2 separate regions of the Homo sapiens genome follow, and region 2 is linked to region 1. The links come from fine-mapping of genetic effects on gene expression. Tissue or cell type: whole blood. Region 1 holds a variant in brackets; the other region holds the start of a gene. All regions are shown on one strand. Distances are between the middles of the regions.

Region 1 (8,110 bases):
AAGGTTACTTTACAGATTTCTCTATTAAAGACACAAGAAATGAACAAGATTTCACTGAACTCAAAAATATTTTGCTAATGGCAAATGTAATGGTCTTAAACAATAACATGAAAATAAAAGAGACTTCTCTTTCAACAATAAGCAATTAGTGGTTACAGTCAAAAACAAAATAAAACAAAACACCACAAGGCTGGTTCTTTTCTAATTCCCTAACAAAGAAACCTTGATGCTAGAGTACATCAGAATTTAAAGGTGCTGGGGTAACATAAGTTACAAGCTTGTGCCACTTTTGGCCAGTAACACCAAATATAATGCAAAGATTAGGAACTAACAAATTCATTAAACCTGCTTATTTTTTCAATGTCTATTCTCAAAAGTACAAATTATGTATGAAATTTTGCCTTCACTGTAGCTGCTCACATGTCATGAGCATGTTTAAAATAACCAAGTTTTGAATTTTTCATTTACTAACATCTTTGATCCAAGGCTGAAGAGCTAACATCAATAGTCTTGTGCACAAAATGCCTTAAAAGTGAAATTAATGCATTGATTCAGTTCTTCCTGGGACAAAACAAATAATAACAACAGACTTAAAGAAGTAGATCCTACTAAAAACTCCCAAGTGCACCTTTTTATTTGTTTGTGTTAATGGACTCCATTTATCTATGTATCACTAACTTCTTAAAACTTCATGTAAAAGAATGTAATTGGTTCTTAGCAATTTATACTCATTTTAACAGCAAAATGTAAGAAATCAGTGGTGATTCTCAACGAAATACTTTATTTTAATGATATTTACATGAGTAACATTATAGTCAATATATATTTTTCCTCATCTTTCTTATGTTAATTTGCTTTTATAACATATTATTGCTCTTTTGTTGCTTAATTTTGATTTTCTTTTTTAAAAATCTTTAAGTCCTGAAACTTTAGCCTCTTAAAGGTTGTCATAGTAAACTTCACTAATATTTTCAAAAGATACACCATTGACAACCAAAAAAGATAACTGGTCAAGGCAAATGAAAAATGAACTTTGATCATTCAACTGGAAATGTTATTTAAACTTTATACTATAAATTCCCCTAGGCAAGACCTGGCTGATCTGACAACACTCCTAAATGAGTTGGTTCCTCAAAATATTATTTTCATGTGTTCCCAGAAATCAAATACATGCTAACACAAGGTCTGTTTTCCTTACCAGTACTCATGTTGCTGAAAAAAGTGGGCATATTTCCATTAATATGAAGTACAGTTAGCTAATTTCTGGTGCTTACACTAAGTTTTAACTAGTGACTTAAAATTAAGATTATTTACAATACAGCAGCTCACTACATCCCAAATTAACAGCTTTCTGGTTAAGGAACTTTATCTAAAATGAAAGAAAGTCAAAAATCCCCTCCCAACGATGTGGTTCCACAGATGATGTTTCTATTTACTGAAAAAGGTTGAGGATCCCTATTCTGAGAATCCAAAATCTGAAATTCTCCAAAATATGAAACTTTGAGTGCAGACATAATGTCACAAGTAGAAAATTCCACACTTGATCTCACATAACAGGTCACAGTCAAAATGTAGACACACAACACAGTTTATTAAGCATCCCCAAGAGAAAAATAAAATTACCTTCAGGGTATGTATATAAAGTGTATATGAAACATAAATGAGTTTCATGTTTAGACTTGGGTCTCATCCCCAAGATTTCTCATTATATATGCAAATATTCAAAAATGTGAAACTATCCAAAATCCAAAACCCTTCTGGTCCCAAGCACTTCGTATAAGGAATACCTCACCTGTTTCTCAAAAGGCAGCACAGAACAACAATGTTTTTCGCTTTGTGAGTTCATATGCTAGAATTGCCTATTTGAGGGACTGCTACAAAGACAGGACAAACTATAGTGTGGCATTAAAAAGCTGTGAAGGAAGTTAGTACGCTCAACAGAAAAGGATACCACATTGCTTCCTTCCCCTTCCCATACCCCTCAAGCCTTCTAAAAAGTTCCATAGGCTCTGGAAAGACCCTCTAAAAATAATTTAGATAAAATATGTATTACGAACCTCCTGAAGGAAATACTGACTCCCCCCTACCCCATTGCCAAGTATACCAAAAGTAGTTTTAAATATTCTTTGCTAGCTAGTTTCAGGGCTTCTAAATTCAATCTTCTAAATGCAACTGTTTCCTCTTTTCTCTAAGACAGAGAAAACACCAAAACAACAGATAAACAGTTTTCTTAGACAGAGCACTTTCTTTTTTCAAACTCAATAATGACACATCAACAAGAAGGTTTCATTTCCCTTCCACAACTCTTGGTTGCTTCCTCAGAGAGCTGAGGTATTTCAAAGCCCTTAACTGGGAATGGAAGGGAGTTAGGGAAGGTGATGTGAATAACAGGAAGGATAACTTTCCCACTGTGTTCTGAGGACTATCACCTCTGACATCAGATACCCAGAATGCCATATGCAGATAGAAACACACTGCCTCTTGTACCATGTTTCTGCATGTGCACCATGATTGACCGGGAAGAAAGAGAACCTATCTTCATTATTAAGATCTGTATTTTTCTCTAGTAAAGATCTAGGGTGGACAAATTCTAGCAATTTATCCTGCTAAAGTCTAGGAACTGGATCTCCTGTGAAGAGTCCATAAAAAAGTATATGTACTACAGAACAGTAGGGCTCCTAGAGGTGGTTTATACCACGTGCAGGAAGAATGTTGTTTACATAGAGTAAACACAAACTTTCTTTTTCCTTCTATGATTTAAGTATTAGAGAAATAAACACCAGTGGTGGTAGCAGGATACCTAATTATATATTTAAAATAATTTGATTGCCTAATGAAATAAACAAACCTTGAAAAGAATAATTAGGCAAACGTGAAGTGGATAATTACAAAATTCCAATTATGCAATGTGGTGATACAACATAAAGGCACAGCTTCACTGTAAAAACTATGTCAAAAGGATGAGGAAAGAGCATTTCAACTAAAGAAGACATTATAGAGCAAAGATCAAATTCTTTTATTTGAAATCATTTGGAGATATAGGTAGCCATCACTACCTACTGCAATCATTTTTCTCAATAATGCAAGAAAAGGTGAGCAAATATGCTGTCATGATTTTCAATTAACATGCAAATGTGAGTGCCCCAGAAAAAAAACTAACCACAAGCTTGGAAAATTATGGTAAAGAAACAGAGAAATGGATCTCTTCCAGACTAAAGGTTTTCAACTCATTCTTCAGTACTTCATTTATTACTACTATAGAAAATTTGAGAAGTATACCAAAAATCAGAATAAATTACCTACACCTACCTATGGAATACAATATTTTAATAAAATAATATTTAATATTAATACCTTGTATTAATATTTTAATACAAGGGTTGCTATAAATGGAAACAAGGCTTTAAAATTTAAATGTGCTTGTTCACATTTCAATGTGAGAGTCATTCAGGAGGGGAAACGCTCTGTTGACAGTGACATAGAACACTTTGATAAAGACTGTGCTCAGAGGGAAGGCAAAAGGCAACACAATGGGAGCAAATGCATTAAGGTTCTTTACCCCCTGTCTCTGTGGTGCTCTTCTTATTTAGAATTTTCAGGATATCTTTGGTAATCTTCTTCAGCTGATGCCTTGCTTCATCACGCTCTTTGCCGACTCCATAGAGAAGGATTGTGCGCTGGTTACATTCATGACTTGAAGATTCATCCTGAAAAACAGAAAATGCATTCTGAAACTCTTGTCTGCAGGGGTGGGGTTGCATTTCATATCCCTGAAATGCACTGACCACAGCACCTCCATGCTGGCTTGCGGTGGTGGCATCCCGCCCTCCCTTCAATTCACCTCAACCTCCACTGGCAACACCCTTGTTTTTCCAGTTTGGAACTTGCTAACATTATAAAAAAAAAAAAAAAA[G/AAG]TGTCAACTGACCTGAAGTCTTAATAGAAGCACTTGATGTGGGCGTACCCTACAAAGTAAGTTTTGGCTATTGAAAAACTTTTCATTGTTTAAAATTGAACATGGTATTAATTTCACATCATGTAACATATTGTCTAGTCATATTTTTCCCTTAAGGAAAATGTTATCTCTTCATAAGCCTGGTTTTATATATAGCAATAGTAAATATTTACATTTAGGGAAAAATATCTTGCTAGGATCCTCAAACACCTTTATAAAAAATATTCCTGGACAGGGTGCAGTGGCTCCTGTCTGTAATCCCAGTGCTTTGGGAGGCCAAGGTGGGAGGATCTCTTGAGGACAGGAGCTCAAGACCAGCCTGGAAAAGAGCAAGACTTCATCTCTACAAAACTATATATATTCCATTTATTTCCAACATGACTGTGTGAGATACATGTATATTTATTTCCAAAAGACAAAACAATAAAGCGTGTAGGTGTCATTAGGTGTGAGGCAAACAGCTGAAAATGCAAACATGTTCTGACATCACCACTCTTCCCTTCTGGACCACCTCTCCACCACCACCCCATAGGCACAGTGAATCCAAGCACCATTTTTTTCCCCACGTGGGAAAGAAATTTAGTCACAGCATAACGAAAGCATATGCACACCACTGAACACATTCCTCAGCCAAAGTAACAGAGTCCAAGATGTGCCCTCTCTTGTGCCTGGCTCTGAATCTTTCTATAGCAATTTCTCTCTTGGATCTTATAATCTTCCATTTTCTTAGAAAATGTCCAAATCTATCCTTTGGTAAACCTCCTTTTCTTACTCTATGTATATTTTTGCCCATGGCAAGCACTTACCCTTCCCAACAGCATCCATCTTATCCTAAGGAGCTTATATGAGAAAAGAATTCCTCACAGAGAAAACAAACTGCACTGTGTTCCTAATTAGCAGTGGCAGCAACAAAGAACAAAAACCTCAGACTAGGAGAAGTCCAATGTTTGACCTGGAGTACTTCACATGTGTACTCTGCACAAAGTAGCATATTGCTTCTGTAGCGTTAAACTAAGCGCCTGTTTTTCTCTCTCCAATTCTGTTACTTGGCTCTCAGTCTTTGTGTCGGTCTGTCTTTCTCAGGGACACACTTGCCACTGCTTCCCATTGCACTGGTTCCTTTTTTATTATACATTACAAGAAATAAACATTTATATGCCCTGCCAATCTATCTATTCCCCACCCCCAAATGATTCTTAATGTTTCAGGTGTTCAAATTTGCCTCCAAAAAAAAAAAAAAGAAGCTAGGAGCGAGTTTCTCTTAGAAGCTGTTCTTATTTAATATCCTGAGTACCTCTCCCAAATTTTCAAAAGATATTCCTAATCATAGGATACAAATGACATAAGCAGTGATCCCTAGAGCTGGCTGCGCATCTGAATGAGCTGAGCTGCTTGCTAATTTCCCATTTTCGTTGTTGCTACAGAGAATTACTGATATATTTCTTTTTTCTTTTTTTTTTTTTTTTTTTTTTTGGTCTGGTGGTTTGTGTACATATGAACCCTAGGAAGGAAACAGGGGGGCACTAATAAAATTATGAAAAATGAAGGCAGTGCCAGTCACATGCTTTGGCAATTGTTTTCAGTTAAGGCATATCAGATGGTCCTAATGTAAATGTCCATGTGAAGGCTGATGACTGTAGCATAGTTATTCAGTAACTGTTTATAGAATATCTATTTGAGGCAAGACAAAATGCTAGGAGCCCTGAAAAAATACAAGGATGAATGATTCCTGTCTTCAAGGAGCACAGATTCAATGTCATCAAAGTAGTATTTACAGACCTAGAAGTCCAAAGAGGGGTGGTGAAGGAAAGCATCCTAGAAAGAGCCACGTGCTCCTCACATCGCACAGGATCACTATGGCTCCAAATTTACTGATAATAGCCCAAGCTTGGGGTAAGAGAGCTGTGACTGCATACTGGTTGTGCCACTTGCCAAGTCCATGATCTCGAATAATAAACCTTTCTAAACCTCTAATTCTTCCTCTGAAAAATGGGGTAACATCGCTTCCTTGTAAGGTTTTTGTGAGAAAACCTGGGATAAAGCGTGTAAAATGCTTCGAAGTATAATGGACAGTGTTCACTACTGTTAATTCACATGCTAGACTTCCCCTCCTCCTCTGCACATCCCCCACACCCACACCGAACTGCCTTACTCAACATTTCACCAAGACTCCAGGGCACTTCCTCCCTTTGCTGTTGCTCGTCCTTACACCTAAAATACTCTCATAGCCACGATTTCACTTGCTGAAATGCTATGTACAAATACAGTGTCAGTTCCCTCACTCTGTCACTCCAGTTTATTGAAAACCTCCCCACAGAAGGAGGGGAAGTAGACTTTGGAGCATTTATTACAGTATAATTCACTTATTTTCTAGGTATTTGTTTAATGTCTGTCTTCCTCATTAGTGTGTAAATTTTGTGGAAGACTCCATGTCTGTTTTGTTCATTTTTATAATCTCCTTAATAGGCAATGAATTAGCATCTAATATTTGTTGAACATACTAAATACAAAATAAGCAGACTAATGAACAAATATATAGCTAAAGGAATAGGGCAGAGGTGAAGATAAGGAGAAAAATTAGTTTTGTAGGAAACTTTACCTGATGATTAAGTGTTGAGAAAAATGAAGGGGAGATGTGAGAGACAAAGCTAGAGTAAAAAAGTTTGTAGGGTGAACTAAGTTTTAGTGGTGGGAATGAAGACTAAGAAGCAAAATGAAGAGGTATCTAAGAAGTTAGGAAAGGATCAGGCTTTTGAACCCAAGGAGTAAATGTGCATCTCACTGGACTTCAAGATGTATCCACTAGTTAAAATTATTTATAATGTATACTAATAAATAGTATTGTTTATATTACCAAGTAATTATTATTAATCTATTTACAATGTATAAAAAATTAATACATTATAACAGCAGGGAACTTTTGAATTTACATGTAATTGCAAGGAATTTGAAGGGTAGGTAGAAATGTGTAAATGTCCAGTAATTGGTTTGATATGGGCCCTAACACAGAGGTGACAGCTCAGGAATAAGGGCAGTATGTCAAGTCCTGGGAGGGGTGCAAAACCTTCACATTATGTTTAGGGAAGAAGGGCTAAGAGAGCTGAGATGGTGAGGGGAGAAATAAGCCAGCAAATGGTGCACATACATGCTCCTTAATTAACAAGATACTATAATTCAGGGTCACACAAGTCAGGGGAGGGGATACATAAGAAAGAGTGTCACTGACAACGTCCAGTGAGGTTAAGAAGTCACAATGGATGTGACTTCTTGTTTACTGACAAACCATGTGTGAACCTCAAAGGAGAAGAAGTTTCTCTAAGTGGCAGGGCACAAAGCTAAGAAACAAGCGGTTAAAGTAAGAGGTGATGATGAAATGGTGAAGATAGGGAAGTGACCCACATTTACCAGGAGTTGGGCATGAAGAACAACAGCTTGAGAGGAAAGAGCGTTATGAAGATCATCAAAAGACTCTTGTTTCAGACCTATCTTTCAAATAAACAAATTTCCATAGTAGAAATCAAGATTGGGGAACAGATAACTGATGATAAAGGATATAAGAGACAATGGCCTCTTAGCTGGATTAATATGGAAAGAAAGAAAGGAACATCTTTCTACTTGACCATCGGGAAAAAAAGAAAATTAGTGAAAATAAAAAGACATTTTGAGGTGAAGAAGACACTTAAGAAGCTCAAATCATTCCTTGGCCTTGATATGCTCAGGGAGTTGGGCCAAGGAACAAAGTCATGAGTTGAGAATGCAGGGATAAAACTGAAAGCAAAAGCAGCACGTAGTGAGCTGGAAAAGAATCACTGCTCAACCTCTATAAGGGGTGTAAAGACAGTATTCCTTTCTTAGCATTAATATTTTCAGGGAACTCATGCTAGGTGTTACTACAGTAGTCTTCAAATAGGACAGGCAGAGGCATTTTAGAAGCTACTATTTTTCAAGAGCCTACAAGATTTGTTTACATCAGTTTTTCATACAAGTAGAAAATGTAGGCTGGGCATGGTGGCTCACATCTATAATCCCAGCACTTTGGGAGGCTGAGGTGGAGGATCACCTGAGGTCATGAGTTCGAGACCAGCCTGGCCAACATGGGAAAACTCCATCTCTACTAAAAATACAAAAACTAGCCAGGCGTGGTGGCAGGTGCCTATA
Region 2 (8,110 bases), 35 kb before region 1:
GTTTATAAAATTATTTCTAAATCACCATCAAATAGATTTCTGTTGTAATGAAAAGATTATTATACGTGGGGAACACTAATAGAGAAACAAGAAGTAAAACTATTTTAAATTAGGCTTATTTTCATCTTTTATAAAGTCTGAAAACATGGTAAAGAAGGAAAATATATGAGGGTAAGATGGAATAGTAAAACATAAAATCTCAGGAACATCCTATTGGCTATGCTAACTCCAAGTTTTATCAAAGAAAAACCAAATAGAGCTTTTTATGTTAATTTACTGAAGATATCAACCACTTAAAATACAATAAATATTTTAGACATATTAAAAATATGTGAGAGAATGGGATTGTATAGTTCTAAAAATTTCAAGTTTCAAACCCGAGGAAATTAGGAGGCACTGAAATATTAATTAAATATTACAATGGAAGCCTACAATTAAAATAAAATTATTAAAAGTGGAGGACGGAAAATCAAAAGCTTTAATCTTTTGTCTGTGACAAGTCATTGTGTGCCATTCAGTTAATGCAGAAACCTGTTAGGAGAACTGTCATAACAAAACTTATCCTGCTCTTGGTAATGTTTCGAGGGATATGATTTGGGCACGAGTAAATCTCATACTAAATGCTAATGAGCCAAGGTTCTCCTTCCTTTCCCCACTTACATCAACTCTTGAGCTAGATTTCGTCTTGCGCTTCCTTCCTTTTGTTTTCTTTTCTTCATCTGTTGTGGTTTTTCCCTGATCTGACAGCTCAGCGGACTTCCTTTCTGGTTCCTGAGAAACTGGAGATGTGGGCTCTTCCTCTTCCTCCTCAGGAGGCAGGGGCAGTGGCTGGAGGTAGTAACTGCGGGGCTTGGGCATGGGGTGTGTGTGATACAGCAGGAGGTGATGCTGCTCCTCGTACTTGATCACTCTTCGGTCCACTCGGACTGTCCCAAACCAGGCCCAGGACAAAGGAGCTGGGTTCTTCTGACCCTCAAACAAGTCCCACGGGGACACCTTCTGCTTCGTAGAGACCTGGAGACCCTGTGGGAAAATAGCGCTCTAAGATAGCACACTCAGATCTTTTCCTTATTCATAGGCCAGGCTTGTATGGGACATGGAGTCAGAGAACACTTTGGCTGGCATGAGCCCTAGAGAACCCGAGAATACAGCAGAGAGGGTTACACAGCTACATCACCGGAGAGCAGTGGCTAGAATTCAGACCTTTGTAAGCCCGGTTCTACAGTTCTTTAACCACATGATGCTCTGTTTAGGCAACAGAGGCAGTCTAGCATATTTTATTGTTAATGTGTATTTCCTCTTTTTGCTAAAAAAATTCTAAAAATTTGTTGCTAAAAATTCTAACACTGCAAAGTTAATCTTACTAAATTATAACCAGTTCTAAATCTCTGTAATCTATTTATAATTTTGAAGATAATATCAAATTTAAGAGTCAAGTTATAGTCAACCTGTAATTGGGTTAGTATTAACTTCAATCCAAATCTGCATGAACTTGGTTCAATATGTGGGCCCTGTACTTAATAAGCCATACTCTGAATATAATATTATTATTAGAGAATTAAATTGTAGCAGCAGGAATAAGTAAAGTCTTTCAACTCAAGCTTATATTTACTGACTCTAGAAAAAAAAAAACGGTTACCCTCTTTTTATTCTTAACATTAATTGGTGACATCTCTTGGCACTTGCCTTAAAATGTCAATTTAAAAATATTTTTCCTTAAATGGCCCCCAAATAACTACTCAGTCATTCCCTAAGATGTAAGTGTTACTGTTGTTATCTATATGCATTCTTTTATGAGTAGCTTCATCTAAAACTAAGGTTCAGGCCAGGCACAGTGGCTCGTGTCTGTAATCCCAACACTTGGTGAGGCTGAGGCGGGTGGGATCACCTGAGGTAAGGACTTTGAGACCAGCCTGGCCAACATGGTGAAACCCCGTCTCTACTAAGAATACAAAAAAAGGCTAGGTGTGGTGGCTCACACCTGTAATCTCAGCAATTTGGGAGGCTGAGGCAGGTGGATCACGAGGTCAGGAGTTCAAGACCAGCCTGGCCAAGATGGTGAAACTCCGTCTCCACTAAAAATACAAAAATTAGCCAGGCATGATGGCAGGCACCTGTAATCTCAGCTACTCAGGAGGCTGAGGCAGAGAATTGCTTGAACCCGGGAGGTGGAGGTTGCAGTGAGCCGAGATCACGCCACTGCACTCCAGCCTGGGTGACAGAGCAAGACTCTGTCTTGAAAAAAAAAAAAAAACAAAGACAAAAACAAAAAAAAATTAGCTGGGCCTGGTGGTGCATGTCTGTAATCCCAGGTACTCAGGAGGCTGAGACAGGAGAATCGTTTGAACCCGAGAGACAGAGGTTGCAGTGAGCAAAGATCGCACTACTGCACTCCAGCCTGGGCGACAGAGCGAGATTCCATCTCAAAAAATATAAATAAACAAAGTAAAACAAAATAAAACCAAGGTTCAATTGCCACCTGTAAATTGACTGTTTCCTAATATTTGTCTTGAGATGAGAACTTTTTCCTTGGTGTAAAAACCACACATCCAAATGGATTCCAGATGTCTTACTACCAGGAAGTCCGCTGACACTGCAAACTCAAACTTGACCATGACTTTAGCTTTTTTTCTTTACACAAACTGGTATTAGATTCTCAGGCTACTCTAAATTCCCTGGTAAATCTGATTCTTTCATGTCTTCATATAAACTCTCCCTTTATTTGTACCACAATTTTCCCTACCTCCCAGCTAACTCTTAATCCTTCAAAATGACTCGTGTCAATTTTCCTGGGGACCCTCTATTCTATCCCCTAATACTCTCTCTGTACCATGTCACACAAATCTCATTACACTGTAATTGTCTGTCTACTTCCCCCTTGAGGGTAGGAACTCTGTCTTTCATCTTGGTGATTGTGGAATGTCGGTGGTTGCTTACTGTTCATTAAAAGAGTAACTGACCAATTTTCTCATATTTTAGAGAACCATCTTTAATATCTTATATAAAACAAATGTCCATTAAATACTGCTTGATAGGAATAGAGAATATCCTAACAATTAAAATAATTTTTATTTGAAATAGCTTACTACAGGAAGGTTTTTTTTTTTTTTTCCCCCCCCAGAGACAGGGTCTCACTTTGTTGCCCAGGCTAGGGTGTAGTGGCTATTCACAGGCATGAGCCTAGCACATTGCAGCCTTAAACTCCTGGCTTCAAGCAATCCTCCTGCCTCAGCCTCCCAAGTAGCTGGAACTAAAGACATGTGCCACCATGCTCAGCTTACAAGAAATTTTTCATTGATAAATATATTCTGCTTCTAAATCTGAAGTATAATCAGAACTTATTTATGCAATTTTTTTTTTACACTAAGCTTTTACTTAGTTTTCTCTTGGTAGGTTTCCAAAAATTTACTTAAATTCAGGGAAACATTTTAAGTCCTTTAAACATATAAAACGTAGATCTTCAAAGATATGACCTCTTTATATGATAATGCCAATGACTAAGTACACTTAGAAGACAAGCATATGCCTTAAAAACATCAACAGCAAAATTAATATATTTTATATATCCTATGGTAAGACAAAAAAAAGTATTTCATCTTTTGTAAATAAATTTATATATAAGAAAAAACATTCACTCTTGCCTGTTTTTTATCTATAGAGTCAAATCCAGCAATTTTGTTTCCTTTTGTGTCAATCAAGGAACCCATAGGTTCACAAGTGATGACATCACATGTCTGTTTCGGCAAAGGTAGTAACTGTCGAACTTTGTCAATACTTTCTGATCGCTTGTCTCCTAGCTCTTTCTAAAGAAAAAAGAGAGAGAGAGAGAGTGAGAAGTGGGACAGAAATTACAATGAAGGCAAAAGTTAACCAGAAGGAAGTTCCCCTATGAAACATTTCCCTTTTTATAGCTTAGCGCATGTTCTTTAACCCTGAACATGTTCTACAAGGCAGTTCCAAATAGAGCAATGAGTGTTTCATTTCTTCTATTTAAGTAGAAAATAGAACACATACAAAGGCACTGTTGTTACACAACAAACATCATAGTGCTGAAATGACAAAAATCCAGGGTAGTGATCACAATCAGAAGACAGGAGCTGCAGAACAGAACACTTTCTCATGTCCAGGGTCAGATTACAAGGTAACCATTGATTTATTTGATTGGTAATGCATCAGATTTATTTGGTTTCTTTTTTGCACTGTTTTCTTACAATTTTTTTTTAAAGGAGTCTGTTAGTGGTCGGTCAAATGAATCGATTTATAAATTTCAATGCAGATGGCTATTTTTTCAATTACACGTGCCAGTCCAAGCATAGAGTTATCCTAAATCTATCTAATGTTAGTATTCTGGTTATATATTTAACAGTGGATTTCTAAAGTTCTTTAAAAAATTAAACATGTTTTATAATGTAATTGTTTTCAATAAAAAATAATCAAGGTTATGTGCATGTAACTTCTGGGTACTAATAAGGTTAGGTGAAACAAATAGCAAATAATCACATTAAATTAAGTTGAATACAATTAATAACATTTAATGAGTAATAAATTAAAATGCACTAGATAATAAATCCATAAACAACTTGAGCTCATAATACAGGCTGATCTCAAACTTACTTTCAGTTTCTTTACTAAATTCATGTATGCACGCTTGTTCTCTTCAGATCCCCCAGGGGATGCATTTGATAGGTCAGAGGCTAACGTTCCATTGATTAAAACACCCAGCATGTCAAGAACTGTTGTGAATAATTCACTAAGAAAGAAAATAATTATTTTCATCTTAAAGTGAAACTGAAATACACTTATTTAACTGAGTATTTTTATTCAAGGCACAGAATTTTTAATAGCATCCAAGTAAATAAGATGTGGCAGAAATCGCCATCAGTATATCAAAGCTTATACCATGCATACATGTAGCAAAATCAATGTGAAGTGATAAAAACATACTTGTTAGTGTGCATGTCAACAGTTCCTGAAGTAATGATCTGAAGGAGTAGCAGGGCCCAGTCTGTAGTCCACTGGGTGCTCCTCTGCACCGTGTCAAACATTCCTCCTACCTAGCAGACAAAATACAGTAAGATATTTGCATTCTGTAAAACAGAAAGAACACCCCATTGCTTTATGTTATCAAATTTTGATTGTTTTTTATTTAAAAAAACAAGGGATGCTCTAGTTTATAGATTACCTTATCTTTTCTCTTTTACCTACATGTTTATCACTATTTTTAGTTCTTTCAGCACAGTTCAGTCATTCAAACATTAACTAAAATGAAGAAGGGACGTGAGTATCTGAATGTGGGCACCAATAAACTTAGCTTTCTTTTGTTCCAAATCTTTTATGATGTCCAGTTTTATGATGCAATTATAGTTGAATTAAACCTGAATAATGTCAAAGTCATGTAATCCAATTATCTGCATCTTTGTGTTTGCTGTACAATTACTATTGAATCTAAGCCTGCTATCATAATACCATATGGAAACATCCACTATCACAGCAGTGGTGGGCAGGAGGCTTGGCCCGCACACCTACCAGTTCACGTGTTGGGACAAGGTTAGAAACAACTGCAAAAGTATCAGGCAGGCCATCCTCCAGAGGGGCCTGCACTTGGGCCTGCCTGATGGGAAAAGAAAACTCAAGGAATGCACAATATGTGAGACATTTTAAATTTCTATAAAACTTCTCTGTGGGATTTGTCTTTATAATCAATTTGATGGAAAGTTGGACAAAACTTTGAGTTAAAAGACTTTTTAAATGGTTTTAAGTAAGTATAGTAGAAGCTAACACTTATAACAGTCTTCTCAGATTTATTCTTAGCACAAACTGAAGAGAAGGAGAGATTCACTGGGGTAGAGGTAGAGAAGGCAAATCTATGCTTAAAATACCTAGCACTGTCTAGATGTCTGACCAGACAGGAAGGAAAGCAGCAAGGGAAACAGAAGGCTTTAGAAACAGGGAAGTAATTACAGAGAGCAAAGAGTGGAAGGCCTCACCTTGTAATGCAGACTTTGCACTTAGGAGAAGTGGAAAGCTGGAGGTATTTTCACATGTAAATATGTTTAATGGAGGGAAAATACTAGAAATGTCACTTACCAAATTTAGGCGGAGTTGCAATGCTTCGTGCATCATCTGCCGCGCTTTTATGTCATCTTGGTATCGTTCTTCTCTCCAGTTACTTAAAATCTAAGATCCGGAAAAAAACTCCCCATTAAAGTTTAATTTTTCTCTCATTTAAAGATAAATTGAGCTTTATACTGATAGCAAAAAACCACTTCTTATCTTTAACAAATTAACAAACAAAGCTAAATAAAATTTTAGCTTTCTTCTTCCTCCATGCAGAAAGAAATCTGGCTATTTATTTGTGCATTTGCCGTTCTAGGTGGAGGAAGAAAATCTTATATAATTATATAGCTAGCCTATGATTAAGTCTGGGAAAATGCTTGAGAGGGCCATCAAATTAAGCATTAATAAAAACTTTTAAAATACATTACCTCATTGATCTTACGAAGAAAAACACTGGAGAGAGAGAATTACATTTTGCCTCAGTCCTGTTATATTTCTAGGGACTTGCTGAACCCTAGCAAATGTATTATTTTGATGTTTTATAGAAGAGAAGGTCTGCTATCTTATGTATGTGTCTTCCTTGATAAAGAGAACGCACGGTACTTTGAAAAATATGGCATTGCAGACATCAGCCAAGTGGCTTTATCAGTTTATAAAGTGGGCTGCTTCTTCACTTCCTCACTGACTCACACTAATGCTGGAAAAGGAAAAATTTGCTTAGGAAAGGGAGCCACAAGTGGGCAACACCCTAAAATCAGATGAGATGAGCAAAAAAAAAGTGCAATTCAAAACAAAAACAAAAAACCACTAACAAAAACCCTATCATGCTCTGAAATATGGTCATTAATGAGAGTCATCTTAAAAGAGTTCAAATGAGTCACATGCAGAAGTACTCCATCCCAACAGATGACCTGTAAGTACCCTGCAAGGTGAGAGGAAAGCACTTCCCAAATCTCATCAGAAGAAATGAACCCCTCCCTAAGGCTGGCTTAAGGGGGCAAGGTAGTTAACTAAACAACAAGCTCTCATGGAGCTCAAATAATAGTAGTGGGACAAATAAAACTAAGTGTAACAAGTGGTTTGAGGCATGGCAATGGCATACAGAATGGCTGTGGTCCTATTTTTAGAGGTGATCAAAGGCCTCCCGAAGGAGGTAACATCTTAACAGAGAACTGAATGAAGGGAGCAGGCCATGCTAATCTCTGGAAGGGAATCTTTCCACCTAAAGGGAAGAAAAGATGCACAGGCACTGAAATGAGAATTTGCTCAGCAAGTTCAAGAACAGTAACATGGCCAGTGCAACAACCATGGAGGAAAGAGGGCCATGACTGGTAGGAGACAAGGTAGGAGAGAGAGCCAGTGTCAAATCATGTCTGGCCTTATCAGCCCGAATTTTTTATACTAGGTATACTGAGGTAATATGTGACTTCCATTTAAAAAGGTTCACTATGATTGCTATATCTAGATCTCTCCTACCCAAAAGGTGAGAAATGACAAGAGGATCAAATAAGATTAAGTGTCCTTGTCCATGTCCATCTAGTACCATTCGAGGGAAAGACATGGTGTCATAGAAACACAGTGCCACAAGAAGGGGTCAATTAGGCTGTGTATCAGGATAAAACACCTCATAAGACCAATCTATCCACTTTGCTTAATTCCATGCTCTCCAATTTCTGTTGTGAATGCTCAGTTTCCTTATAGTACATAGATGCAAGAGCCTCAAACAGTGACCAGGAGAACTGTGTTTGGTGAAAAGGCAATGTCCAAATTATTTCTAAATAAACCAACATGCCTTCTGATTTATTTCTTGTGTACTTGGTTGGCATCAATACAACTGAGTTTCTGAACCTACAGATTTCAAGCTGAAAGCGTGCCTGATAATGTGGCATCCAAGCTTGAGGAGCTGGACTCACTGCCATGCCTACTGCAGCATAGATTGCTCCAGGTCCTCTCCTATGAGGCAGAGTTAGGAGACGGGCAGATAGTTCAAAGTTATATGCAATATATAAAATTTTACTTTTATAGGCAGTACACATTTATTGTATATATCTCA

The links. PIP is the estimated chance that this variant, and not a neighbour inherited with it, causes the effect.
Region 2: it holds the start of P2RY12, and the variant in region 1 is fine-mapped to the expression of P2RY12 in whole blood (INTERVAL, PIP above 0.99).

What each region holds. Positions count from the first base shown.
Region 1 is chr3:151,345,656-151,353,765 of GRCh38, reverse strand. MED12L (mediator complex subunit 12L) reads right to left here. Exons shown (of 45, transcript NM_001393769.1): 17 at 3,560-3,707. All of the region lies in intron 1 of P2RY12 (purinergic receptor P2Y12), which reads left to right. Among named protein-coding and RNA genes, the nearest start is that of P2RY13, 20 kb to the right of the region's middle. The variant G/AAG (reference allele first, on the strand shown) is at 3,914.
Region 2 is chr3:151,380,723-151,388,832 of GRCh38, reverse strand. It overlaps P2RY12 (purinergic receptor P2Y12), which reads left to right and starts at 4,080. Exons shown (of 3, transcript NM_022788.5): 1 at 4,080-4,141. MED12L (mediator complex subunit 12L) reads right to left here. Exons shown (of 45, transcript NM_001393769.1): 33 at 6,088-6,177; 34 at 4,945-5,054; 35 at 4,615-4,750; 36 at 3,642-3,803; 37 at 661-1,023.